Regions from separate parts of the Homo sapiens genome. Here regions 1 and 3 are each linked to region 2. Evidence: fine-mapped expression QTL. A gene starts in region 2. Each other region holds a variant in brackets. All regions are shown on one strand. Distances are between the middles of the regions.

Region 1 (4,232 bases), 260 kb before region 2:
ATTAAAGTTAAGTCCGCCCTTAATGTCTTCAATAGGTTCTTGGATACTGCCACTTTAAGTGAAACAATGTATAACAAAACCAGTTTTTTTTCTCTTAACGTTATAAGAAACATGCCGTAGGTCATTTTACTCAAAGCTGCAATTACCAAGGACTTATTGATGATGTCAAGTGAGGATTTGCTTTCTTTATTTTTTTCTCAATTAACTATGCTTTTTTAATGTTTTTCAGAAACAAAAAAACCCAACAAACCAATCAAAACGCCCCAGGAGTCAGTTGGTATACAGTCCCAGAGCCTTGATGAGACAACTCTCTTTTGAAGACTGAGAACACTGTACCGCAGTGATGGCCTCCTCCTTCCCCCAAAGCCCAAGAGGATGAGCAGGCAGGGTTCTTACCGAGCAGACCTCAGGAGAGTCAGGGCCTGTGGGGCCTGGCCAGCCAGGAGACAGTCTTGGATCCGTACCATAGCTTCTGCCCGCTGCTCCTCCACTGGCACCTCTGAGGCCGCATCAAAGGGAACCACGGAGTCCATGCTGAGCTCAGAATTCTAGAGATGGATAAAGCTATGGGAGCGGAGGGAGTGGAAAACCCAGATTGTATACCCTGAGCACTATTCTCAAAAAAGACAGGGTTTCTGTAACCACCTACCTGGGCACAGCACTGTAGCTGCTCAGCCAGGGCTGGCCACACAGCCTCCACTTCTTCTGGGCTAGATGGGACATTACCAGAAACAATGGCCTGGTCTAGGACCTTCTTCTTCTTCTTCCTTCTCTTCTTTTGTTTGTTCTGTGGGGAAAGAATTGTATTAGGATGTCAAGAGAGCTAAAGAGGGCTTTCCCCATCAGTGTCTTTTCTATTACAAAACTAATTAACTGGACATTCACAGAGTGCCCATTATCTGCTATCCATCGGTAATAGAAAGCAATAGTGAACAGCATATTTCCTTCCCTTTGAGGAGCTTTTACTCTAGTGGTGGAGACAGGAAGTAGAAAGGTAATTACACTAGAGTGTGGATAAAAGCTATAATGTGAGTGAGCATAAGATGTCATGGCAAAACTCCTGACCCATTTCCTGAGTTCAGAGGTTTGCCAAAAGCAGTGCTATCTCAAGAGGTCTACAGAATAAGCAGATGCTATGAGGATCAAATAAGACACATGGAAAAGCTTCATAAAATGCAAAGCACTATGTAAATAAAGCCTCTAATTTTTTCTCCTGAAAAGTAGGACAGCCAGGCGCAGTGGCTCACACCTGTAGTCCCAACACTTTGGGAAGCCTAGGCAGGTGGATCGCTTGAGGTCAGGAGTTCAAGACCAGCCTGGGCAACACAGCGAGACCCTGTGTCTACAAAAAATACAAAAATTAGCCAGGCATGGTGGTGTGTACCTGTAGTCCCAGCTACTTGGGAGGCCGAGGCAGAAGAATCGCTTGGGCACGGGAAGGAGAGGTTGCAGTGAGCTGAGATTCAGCCACTGCACTCCAGCTTAGGTAACAGAGCGAGACCCTGCTTAAAAAAATAAATAAATAAATAAATAATTAAAAAAAAGAAAAGCAGGAGAGTGAGTCAATACCCAAATCCTGCTTCTCCCAAGTCAGGGCTGTGAACCAGTCTTTGGTGTGGGTACTGAAAAGTCAAACAGGATGAACTGAGAGGCCCCTGAAGGTCATGCTCCATTAAAGAACTTACAATCAAACACACCAAAACTTAGGAGCATGGAGTCCAGCAGATCTGGATTTGAGTATTGAATTAGTAT[T/A]ACTAACAAGACTTTGGACAAGTTGCTTAACCACTTTGGGCACATGCGCTACTGTGAGGATTACATGAAAACGTCAGCACAGTGTCTGACACACAGTAAATGCTCAATAAATGATAGTACCTAGTATTACAGATAATACCACAGAGCTCTGAGTGCAAAAATACCCTTTAGCAAAGTCTCGTTGGTACTACTGCATCTTTCAAGTCCAGTTATGACAGAATTTTAAGCTGTAGCAACTAGAGTTATAGGAAGGTTCTGGTACAAAATCTTTTTTTTTTTTTTTTTTAAGACAGAATTTCACTCTTGTTGCCCAGGCTGGAGTGCAATGGCGTGATCTCGGCTCACTGCAACCTCTGCCACCTGGGTTCAAGCGATTCTCCTGCCTCAGCCTCCCAAGTACCTGGGATTACAGGTGTGTGCCACCACGCCAGGCTAATTTTTGTTTGTTTGTTTGTTTTTTGAGACGGAGTCTTGCTCTGTTGCCCAGGCTGGAGTGCAATGGCATGATCTTGGCTCACTGCAACCTCCGCCTCCCGGGTTCAAGTGATTCTCCCACTTCAGCCTCCCAAGAAGCTGGGATTACAGGTGCGCATGACCATGCCTGGCTAATTTTTGTATTTTTAGTAGAGACAGGGTTTCACCATGTTGGCCAGGCTGGTCGTGAACTCCTGACCTCAAGTGATCTGCCCGCCTCAGCCTCCCAAAGTGCTGGGATTACAGGCATGAGCCACCGCGCCTGGCCCAAAATCTGTTTATACAAAGCAAAGTCTCTGTGTTTCCAGGATACAAATTCCTTGGAGTTTGCATTTTGTCCCAGGGTTTTTTTTATTTTAATGTGAACCAATAATTTTATTTTTCAGAGATAGGGTCTTGGTCTCACCCAGACTGGAGTGCAATGTCTCAATCACAGCTCACTGCATCCTCAAACTCCTAAGTTCCAGTGATCCTCGTGCTTCAGCCTCCTGAGCAGCTGGGACTACAGGTATGTGCCACCATGCTGGTGAATTGTTTTTGTTTTTTGTTGAGACAGAGTCTTGCTCTGTGGCCCAGACTGGAGTGCAGTGGCATGATCTTGGCCTACTGCAACCTCTGCCTCATGGGTTCAAGCAATTCTCGTGCCTCAGCTTCCCAAATAGCTGGGACTACAGGTGCGTGCCATCACACCCAGCTAATTTTTGTATTTTTAGTAGAGAAGGAGTTTTGTCATGTTGCCCAGGCTGGTCTCAAACTCCTGGCCTCAAATGATCCACCCACTGTGGCCTCCCAAAGTGCTGGGATTACAGGCATGAGCCACTGTGCCCAGCCTGTCCTAGGCTTTTCACTGATTCCACTTTGGGTTCATGGACAACTGTCACAATCCCAACTTTATGGATCTGGAGACCGACACGACCAGCTTGAGCTTATTCCAATAATAACCAATACAGGACTAGATTCCAGACTTTCTAAAGTTCAATTTAAGGCTCTCTTTGTGTTGCTGTTGAGACAGAGTCTCACTGTGTCACCCAGTCTGGAGTGCAGTGACATGATCTTGGCTCACTGCAATCTCCACCTCCTGGATTCAAGCGATTCTGTCTCAGCCTTCTGAGTAGCTGGGATTACAGGTGTGCATCAACACGCCTGGCTAATTTTTGTATTTTTAGTAGAGACGGGGTTTCACCATGTTGGCCAGGCTGGTCTTGAACCCCTGACCTCAAGTAATCTGCCCACCTTGGCCTCCTCAAGCGCGGGGATTACAGGTGTGCGCCACCATGCCTGGCCGCAATTTAAGGCTCTTTCCACCTCACCACAATGCTTTCAAGGTATAACCAGAAAATGCTATAGCATAATTATTAGACTCTAAAATTATGAATCCCCAGGGTTTTTGTACTTGGCATGTGGTAGGTGTTCAATAAATGTTTCCTGACTGAACTAAAATATTTATGGCAGATCAGAGATTATTCTAATGGGAGAAGGAAACTGTAGTAGACTCACACTGGCCAACACCCACAAACCTCTTGCTGTCGTAGTTCAGAGCACGTTTAACAGATGAACTTAAGCTGTACAAACTGTGAGAAGAAAGAGCCCCCCTTCCTTGACTCTCCCTTACAGCTCTTTCTACATTGTGGGGCTGCCCAGTACCTGCACCACCAGGTTCCCACGGCTCCGACAGAATCGCTCCAACATTTTGAGGAAGAGGTGGGTGGTCTCCACCAGGTCACGAAGGAAAGAGCGGGGCTGGCATCTCTCATCAAACTTTCGAAAAAGTGCCAGGAATAGTTCTCGGTACTCCATCACATAGAAAATATTGTCTAGGAATGGGGAAGAGAAAGGGATGGAAGGGCTATTCTGGAAAGCTTGAAAAGGAGAGATGGATGAAGCTGGGACTGGGAAGAATGAGATTCTCATCACGAGATGGGACAGGCTGGGATCGGGGACCAGGCCAGGGCCTCACTCTTGATGATGCGGCTGCTCTCCCTCACAGCCTCATCTGGAGATATGTC
Region 2 (4,232 bases):
TTTTTAAAACCCCGATTACGTATCACTTTCGGGGAGGGGGCTCCTTCAAAAATTCTAACATGCTGTGCTCTAGAAGCTTGTTCCCAGTGATAAACTCGCTTCAGCCTCACGCATCCCTTTAGATTTCTAGCCAATATACTCAGCCTCAGTATCATGACTTGAATCAAGCAAATCCTTATTACTTTTCCAAAGACATAAAGTCACTCCCCTCTTCTCTCTTCTGAATGGAGTCTAAAACAAAAGAAAAAAAAGGTTCCACCTTAATTGTTCTCCATACCTTTTAGGACGTAGTTAGTACCTTGAAAAATAACCTCCCGTCAAAAAAAAAAAAAAAAAAAAAAAAACCCTGTAAAACCGGCAGTTCCCACTGTACGCGGCAGTGCCAAGAATTCTTACCGGTTAAAATCGCCAAGGCTTTCCTTTATCATCGTAAAATGAAGACTGCCATAGAATCTGTATTCACCTCCACACAAATTTAAGATCTTTGGGACGACTGTAGGTTAATTAAATGCCTACTACATACCTATTTCATCCTACACTGTAACAAGATAGTGAAACCTCACCTCAAGTAGAACATGAAACACAGAAAATGTCCGTATCTTTCCAAAGTCGACACGTGCGGAACTACCTGCTCAATGGTAACTCCTCCTCGCTGCCAGGGAAGCGGCTGAGTTTTGGCAACCTCCCGTGTTTTCAAGAGACTGGAGTTAGGAGGCGGACTGGAAGTACCCACACTCAAGAAACCCAGACACTGGAGAGGGAAGTATGTTGCGGCGTGGGCATGGCTTCCTTCTAGTTGCCTAGCAGTACCTGCAGCTCACGGCGAGGTCCGCGTGGGGCTCTCCCAGGAGCTCCGCCAGGCACCTGGCGGCACCCACCACAGGTGCACTCGACTCAGGGCCTGGCCCCGGGACCACAAAGCAACAGAACCGGAGCGCCCAAGCAGCCGAGAGGCGACCCACGAAGGTTCACGCTTCAGGGCGCCGCATGGCGAGCAGCTACCGGGAGCTTAAGGCCTAGGGTGAAGTTACCGAAAGAGGCGAGTAACCCAGACAGCCAAAGGGGTAAAAGTAGGATTTCCGGCATGGGGAAGCCAAGGAACGGTTCAGGGGTGGGGGAAGCAGACATCTGGAGGAAAAATGTCCTCCACCCGCCAACGGTAACCGGAACAAGGATCCTGGACCTCCCGCCCCCAGGCAGGAACGACTGCCACCACCGATGCGAGAAAGGCTAGGGGGCCGCTTCCAGGGAGCCCCCAACGCGGCCTCGGCCTCACTCGGCGACCTTCCCTCGGCGGGGTGTCGCACTCACATTGTGAACGGGGCAGGGGGACGGGCGAACTGGTGGGCGGGCCTCTCTGGCGGCGGCTGCTGCTAGGGAGTCGACTTCTCTCCGGTGGCGACTCCGCTTTTTCTCTCCGGTCGCGGCCTCTTCTCGCTTCCCTCAGGCGACGGCGGCAGCGGCGGGCTCGACCTCGGGCCCCAGAATGCACCGCGCGGAAAGAGCGGCTCCTCCGGTCGGGGAGAAGAGGAAAGTGTAGGAAAAGGGGCGCGAGGACGGAGAATGAACGTGCGTGCGTGCAAACGAGGGGTGGTGAGGCCGGGCGGCGGCTGGTGACGCAGCAAAATGCCCGGGCCTTGCCGCCGCGCGTGCGCAGTCCTTGTTTTTGGGCTCCGGCGCGGCTTTCTAGAGATATCTACGGAAAGGGCGGGGCCTCCCAGCTCCTTCGCGATCCTTCCTGGCGCCGGCCCCGCCCTTCGTCCGCCACCCCACCCCCACTCCGCCCCCTGCTAGTCCCTACGCGTTCCCGCCTCTCCTCCCGCTCTGTCTTCTCGCGTTAGAAAACCGTTAGTGGCCCAACTGCCCTGCCATGCGCCTTCGGCGATTTCTCTGAGAAACGGTTGCGTTGACAGTGGGAGGCAAGGCTGAGGCGGAGGGACACGGAGTCGGGATCCTGGAGAACTGAAATGGCGCGTTGGTTACTCTTGAGGGAGTAAATCAGCTCACTGAGTCATCATTCCACCACAAAAACCTGTAAAAAGCCTGTGCTGTGGAAAAGGGCTCACTTCAGAATCAAGGGCCTGGGTCCACCTCGCCATTTTTCTGAAGGTTGGAGGCTCTGTCCAGGGACAGCGGAAATTCGAGGTTCTTGGCGGAGGAGGAGCATTTGCCAATTGGGGCGGGCTTTTGCCCCTACCTTGAGACCTTAGTGCTGTAGATGAGCCAGGAAAGGTATTTGAGGGGAGAGTCTAGGTTTCTGGGAATGGAGAGAGTAGGACATTGTGTGTTTCCACGCACATCGTTTGGGGGAGAAGGGGTTCCCCGTCGCTTTGTGCAACATATTAGTAGGGTGTAGTAGGGGTAGCAACCAAGAGACCCAAAACAGTCCTGCTTAAGAAGAAGCCGCTTAACGGTGGATTGGGGAAAAATACTCTAGTGCGCTGCATTTTGAACAGGAAGGAGGTTTAACGAAAGTGCTATAAAACCTTTCTGAAGAACGGGGCTTCATAATAAGCACTAAGGTATTTAGTGTCTGTGTTGTGCAGGACAGGTAGTGGGAGCTACGAAACCTGGACCCTAGCTCAAATGCCATTAAAAAGGGAAATTGGGCGGGGCGCCCGTGGCTCACGCCTATAATCCCAGTACTTTGGGAAGTTCGGTGGGCGGATCACCTGAGGTCAGGAGTTCAGGACCAGCCCACCCAACATGGTGAAACCCCATCTCTACTAAAAATACTAATTAGCAGGGCGTGGTGGCACTTGCCTGTAATGCCAAATACTAGCTAGTATGAGGCGGGAGGATAGCTCGAACCCCGAACCCGGGAGGCGGAGGTTGCAGTGAGCACTCCAACTTGGGCGACAGAGTGAGACCCTGTGTCAAAAAAAAAAAAAAAAAGGGAAGGGGCCGGGCGCGGTGGCTCACGCCTGTAATCCCAGCACTTCGGGAGGCAGAGGCGGGCAGATCACGAGGTCAGGAGATTGAGCCCATCCTGGCTAACATGGTGAAACCCCGTCTCTACTAAAAATAAAAAAAAATCAGCCGGGTGTGGTGGCACACGCCTCTAGTCCCAGCTACTCGGGAGAGCGAGACAGGAGAATCGCTTGAACCCGGGAGGCGGAGGTTGCAGTGAGCCGAGATCGCGCCACTGCACTTCAGCCTGGGCGACAGAGTGAGTCTGGGTCTCAAAAAAAAAAAAAAAAAAAAAAGGAAGTTAACTTGGCGCACTGGTTCACGCCTGTAATCCCAACACTTTGGGAGGCCGAGGCCAGTGGATTACTGGAGATCAGGAGTTCAAGACCAGCTTGGCTAACATGGTGAAACCCCCGTCCCTACTAAAAATACAAAATATTTGGCCAGGAGCAGTAGCTGACGCCTGTAATCCCAATACTTTGGGAGGCCGAGGCGGGCGGATCACGAGGTCAGGAGTTCAAGACCAGACTGGCCAACATGGCAAAACCCCATCTCTACTAAAAATACAAAAATTAGCTGGGCGTGGTGTGCCTATAATCCCAGGTACTCAGGAGTCTTAGGTGGGAGAATCTCTTGAACCCGGAAGACGCAGGTTGCAGCGAGTCTAGATTGTACCACTGTACTCCAGCTTGGTGACAGTGAGACTCTGTGTAAAAAAAAAAAAAAAAAAAAAAAAAAGAAAAGAAAAAATAGGTCACAACCAAATAATGGTGGCACTGAATGTCAGGCTAAATTTTTTTTTTTTTTTATGTTTTTGAGACAGGGTCTCACTTTAACTCAGGCTGGAGTGCAGTAGTGGTATCACAGGTCACTGCAGTCTTGACTTCTGGGTCCAATTGATCCTCCTGTAACGACTGAATTTAAATATATGTCCAGAGTCACAAATTGCAAAAGAGAACTTTATAGACTGATTTGAGCAATTAAAAAAATTGTTAATTGAAGGTGAGAACAATCCTATTTTATAAGGGGGCTTTCTAATAAGATAACAACTTAGAAGTTGTTAATTTTGTATTAGGAAGTCAAAGGGAAAGGGTGCAAAATGGTAAAAATGTCTCCTGGAGGCCGGGCGCGGTGGCTCACGCCTGTAATCCCAGCATTTTGGGAGGCCGAGGCGGGCGAATCACCTGAGGTTGGGAGTTCGAGACCAGCCTGACCAACATGGAGAAACCCCATCTCTACTAAAAAACACAAAATTAGCCGGGCGTGGTGGCGCATGCCTGGAATCCCAGCTACCAGGGAGGCTGAGGCAGGAGAATTGCTTG
Region 3 (4,232 bases), 67 kb after region 2:
TGTAATGATACCTTATGGCAATTGTGGGCTAGAGTGGGCAGTCACATGAATAACATGTCACATGAAAAACATAGTTTTATTTTATTTTACTTATTTTTTTGAGACAGAGTCTCGCTGTGTCGCCCAGGTTGGAATGCAGTGGCACAATCATGGCTCACTGCAACCTTGGTCACCCAGGCTCAAGCAATTCTCATGCCTCAGCCTCCCAAATAGCTAGGATTACAGGTGTGCACTGCCACACCCAGCTAACTTTTGTATTTTTAGTAGAGACAGGGTTTCACTATGTTGGCCAGGCTGGTCTCAAACTCCTGGCCTCAAGTGATCCACCTGCTTTGGCCTCCTAAAGTGCTGGGATTACTTGTGTGAGCCACTACCTCTAGCCTTGTCTAGCACTTTTATCTTATGGAGATGGCTTCTCTCCTTAAACCTCATGAACCAACTTCTGCTGGCTTCAAACTTCTGCAGCTTTCTCACCTGTCTCAGCTTTCATATAATTAAAGAGAGTAACCTTGCTATGGGTGAGGCTTTGGCTTAAGGGAAGTTATGGCTGGTTTGATCTTCTATTCAGCACACTAAAAGTTTCTCCATATCAGCAATAAGGCTGTTTCACCTTCCTATCATTTGTGTGTTCCCTGAAGTAGCACTTGTAATTTTCTTCAGGAACTTTTCCGGGAAGGAACTTTTCCAGGCCAGGCCTGATAGCTTACACCTGTAATCCCAGCTCTTTGGGAGGCCAAGGTGGGCAGATCGCTTGAGTCAGGGAGTTCAAGACCAGTTTGGGCAACATGGCAAAACCCTGTCTCTACCAAACCAAACCAAACAAACAAAAAAGCCCAGAAAAATTAACAGGGTGTGGTGGCATGCATCTGTGGCCTCAGCTGCTCAGGAGGCTGAGGTGGGAGGATCACTTGAGTCAGACAGGCAGAGGTTGCAGTGAGCCAGTATCGTGCCATTACACTCCAGCCTGGGTGACAGAGTAACACTCTGTCTCAAATTTAAGGCCGAGTGCAGTGGCTCACGCCTGTAATGCCAGCACTTTGGGAGGCCAAGGTGGGAGGATTGCCTGAGTCCAGGAGTTTGAGACCAGCCTGGGCAACATAGCGAGACCTCATCTCTACAAAAACTACAAAAATTAGCCAGGTGTGGTGGCGCAGGCCTGTGGTGCCAGCTACTTGGGAGGCTGGGGTGGGAGGATCACCTGAGCCCAGGAGGCGGAGGGTGCAGTGAGCCAAGATTAGGGCACTGCACTCCAACCTGGGCAACAGACTGAGACCTGTCTCAAAAAAACAGAACTTTTCCTTCGTATTTACAACTTGGCTAATTGCTTGGTGCAAGGGGCCTAGGTTTTGGTCTGTCTCAGCTTTCAACATTCCTTTCTCACTAAGCTTAATCATTTCTACGTTTTGATTTAAAGTGAGAGATGTGGGGCTCTTTTTGTCACTTGAATACTTAGAGGTCATTGTAGGGTTGTTAATTGGCTTAGTTTCAATATTGTTGTGTCTTAGGGAATAGGGAGGCCTGAGGAGAGGGAGAGAGAGAGGAGAACAGCATATTGGCAGAACAGTCAGAACACACACAACATTTATTGATTAAGTTTGTCTTCTTATATAGGCACAGTTCGTTGCACCCCCAAACAATTACAATAGTACCTCAAAGATCACTGATCACGGATCACCGTAACAGATACAATAATAATGAAAAAGTTTGAAATATTGCAAGGATTACCAAAATGTGACATAGAGACATGAAGCAAACACATGCTGTTGGAAAAATTGCACTAATAGACTCACTGTATGTAGGGTTGCCACAAAGCTTCAATGTGTAAAAAATGCAATATCTTTGGAGCATAATAAAGTGAAGCACAATAAAATGAGGTATTCCTGTATATAGCTTTTGCCATGATGTCAGGTACCATTTTATGAATTTATCCCTCATGAGAACTCTATGCGGTAGTTGCCAACATCATCCCTATTTTCTTTTTCTTTTCTTTTCTTTTTTTTGAGACGGAGTCTTTTTCAGTCGCCCAGGCTGGAGTGCAGTGACGCGATCTTGGCTTACTGCAAGCTCCGTCTCCTGGGTTCACGCTATTCTCCTGCCTCAGTCTCCTGAGTGGCTGGGACTACAGGTGTCCGCCACCACGCCCGGCTAATTTTTTTTGTATTTTTTTAGTAGAGATGGGGTTTCACCATGTTAGCCAGGATGGTCTCGATCTCCTGACCTTGTGATCCACCCGCCTCAGCCTCCCAAAGTGCTGGGATTACAGGCGTGAGCCACCACGCCTAGCCTCTTTTTTTTTTTTTTTTTTTTTTTAACGCTTTTCCTGTTTGGAAGGAAAAAGTGCAGCTCGCTGCCAGCAGTCATTTAATTTTACATAAGCATGCTCTTTGAGGCTGAAACAAATCTGACTGATTTCCAATGTGAAAATAAAATATAAAAACTGTTCTTGGAGTTCTTTCTCTCTCTCTCT[CTCTT/C]TCTTTCTTTCTCTTTCTTTTTCTTTCTCTCTCTCTCTCTCTCTTTCTCTCTCTTTCTTTCTTTTGAGGTAGAGTCCCGCTCAGTCGCCCAGGCTGGAATGCAGTGGTGCAATCTCGGCTCACTGCACCCTCTGCCTCCCAGGCTCGAGCCATTCTCCTGCCTCAGCCTCCTGAGTAGCTGGGATTACAGGTGCCTGCCCACATGCCCGGCTAATTTGTGTATTTTTAGTAGAGATGGGGTTTCACCATGTTGGCCAGTCTGGTCTTGAACTCCTGACCTGAGGCGACCCACCCACCTCATCCTCCCAAAGTGCTGGGATTACAGGTGGGAGCCACTGCGCCTGGCCTCTTGGAGTTATTTCTAAACAGAACTAACATTAAAGTCATTGGAATAATTAGAATTGTGGATTAATCAAAGAATGATGTTAACATCATACATAGGAATTCAGCATTTTCTAGGATTTGACAGTTTTAATGATCAGAATTACTGTATTTTGTAAGTGGAAGTACCACTACTGAAAACAGAATGCTGTTAATAGAATGATGTCTTTTGTTTCCAAAGTCAGTAATACTAGAGCAATATGAAAATAATAAAAGCAAGATATTTCACGGCAAAGTTATCTCTGGATAAATGCTGCAGCTACAAGTGCTGCCAGCAAGTATTCTTGGGGCAAATGGGAAAAGGGTTAAATTTTAAATTTATTGTTATTTTTATTTTTTGTAGAGATGGGATCTCACCGTGTTGTCCAGGCTGGTCTCGAACTTCTGGGCTCAAGCAATCAGCCCACCTCGGGTATATTAAGTATATTCAGAGGAACGGGCCAGGCCAGGTGGCTCATGCCTGTAATCCCAGCACTTTGGGAGGCCGAGACAGGCAGATAATGAGGTCAGGAGTTTGAAACAAGCCTGGCCAGCATAGTGAAACCCCATCTCTACTAAAAATACAAAAAAATTACTAGCCGGGCGTGGTGGCATGTGCCTGTAGTCCCAGCTACTCGGGAGGCTGAGGCAGGAGAATCGCTTGAACCAGGGAGTCGGAGGTTGCAGTGAGCTGAGATGGCGCCACTGTACTGCAGACTGGCGACAGAGTGAGACTCCATTTCAAAAAAAAAAAAAAAAAAAAAAAAAGTGCTCTGGCATAGAGGCCTTTATCTCAAATGCCACTGGGAGGCAGTATCACCATTCAGTTTGTTTCCCTTTGTGATTTCATACACATAGGTGCAAACCCCTTTTTTCCTTCAGTCCTTATGCTACCTGGCTCTACCATCGTTTTTAGTCTTTTTTTGTGGTATATCTATCAGCCTCAAGTTTCTTGCCCCATGTTGTTTGCAGACTTCGACACTTGCCTCATTGATTGCCTGTCTAGTTTAAGTCCTATTGTTATTCTGGGTGTTTTTAGCATCTGAAAGGATGATCTATTCTGTAAAGGTATGGTTGATTCAGTCATTCATGAATTCATTCATTTATTCCACAAATAGTTAATGAACATATGTGTTGGGCACTGAGATGAACTGTGGGGAAAATAATTAATGACATTATTTCTGCTTCTGAGAAAGCTATATCATACTAGGGGCAATAGACACAAATAAAAAAGTGTAATGAATGAGCTGGGCATGGTGGCTCATGTCTGTAATCCTAGCATTTTGATAGGCAGAGGCAGGTGGATCACTTGAGCTCAGAAGTTTGAGACCAGCCTGGCCAACATGGCGAAACCCCATCTCTACAAAAAATACAATAATTAGTGTGGCATGGTTGCTCATG

Which allele goes with the higher level. Alleles are on the strand shown, and positions count from the first base shown. SD is a standard deviation of normalised expression in the study named. Not every link is listed here.
For the expression in monocytes of the gene that starts at base 1,598 in region 2, allele CTCTT in region 3 goes with a higher level than allele C (large effect, 1.0 SD a copy in Quach 2016).

What was found. PIP is the estimated chance that this variant, and not a neighbour inherited with it, causes the effect. A credible set is the group of variants that fine-mapping cannot tell apart.
Region 1: its variant is the best candidate, but not a certain one, in a credible set for the expression of PTGES3 in whole blood (INTERVAL, PIP 0.82).
Region 3: its variant is the best candidate, but not a certain one, in a credible set for the expression of PTGES3 in monocytes (Quach 2016, PIP 0.69).

What each region holds. Positions count from the first base shown.
Region 1 is chr12:56,424,366-56,428,597 of GRCh38, forward strand. TIMELESS (timeless circadian regulator) reads right to left here. Exons shown (of 29, transcript NM_003920.5): 12 at 4,184-4,232; 13 at 3,871-4,040; 14 at 650-787; 15 at 397-548. Among named protein-coding and RNA genes, the nearest start is that of TIMELESS, 23 kb to the right of the region's middle. RefSeq lists an enhancer at 1-220. The variant T/A (reference allele first, on the strand shown) is at 1,753.
Region 2 is chr12:56,686,687-56,690,918 of GRCh38, forward strand. It overlaps PTGES3 (prostaglandin E synthase 3), which reads right to left and starts at 1,598. Exons shown (of 8, transcript NM_006601.7): 1 at 1,312-1,598. The coding sequence starts at 1,313. RefSeq lists enhancers at 705-754, 865-984, 1,483-2,008, 2,485-2,534, 3,061-3,586 and a silencer at 1,645-1,834.
Region 3 is chr12:56,754,046-56,758,277 of GRCh38, forward strand. No RefSeq gene overlaps it. Among named protein-coding and RNA genes, the nearest start is that of PRIM1, 3.8 kb to the left of the region's middle. The variant CTCTT/C (reference allele first, on the strand shown) is at 2,468.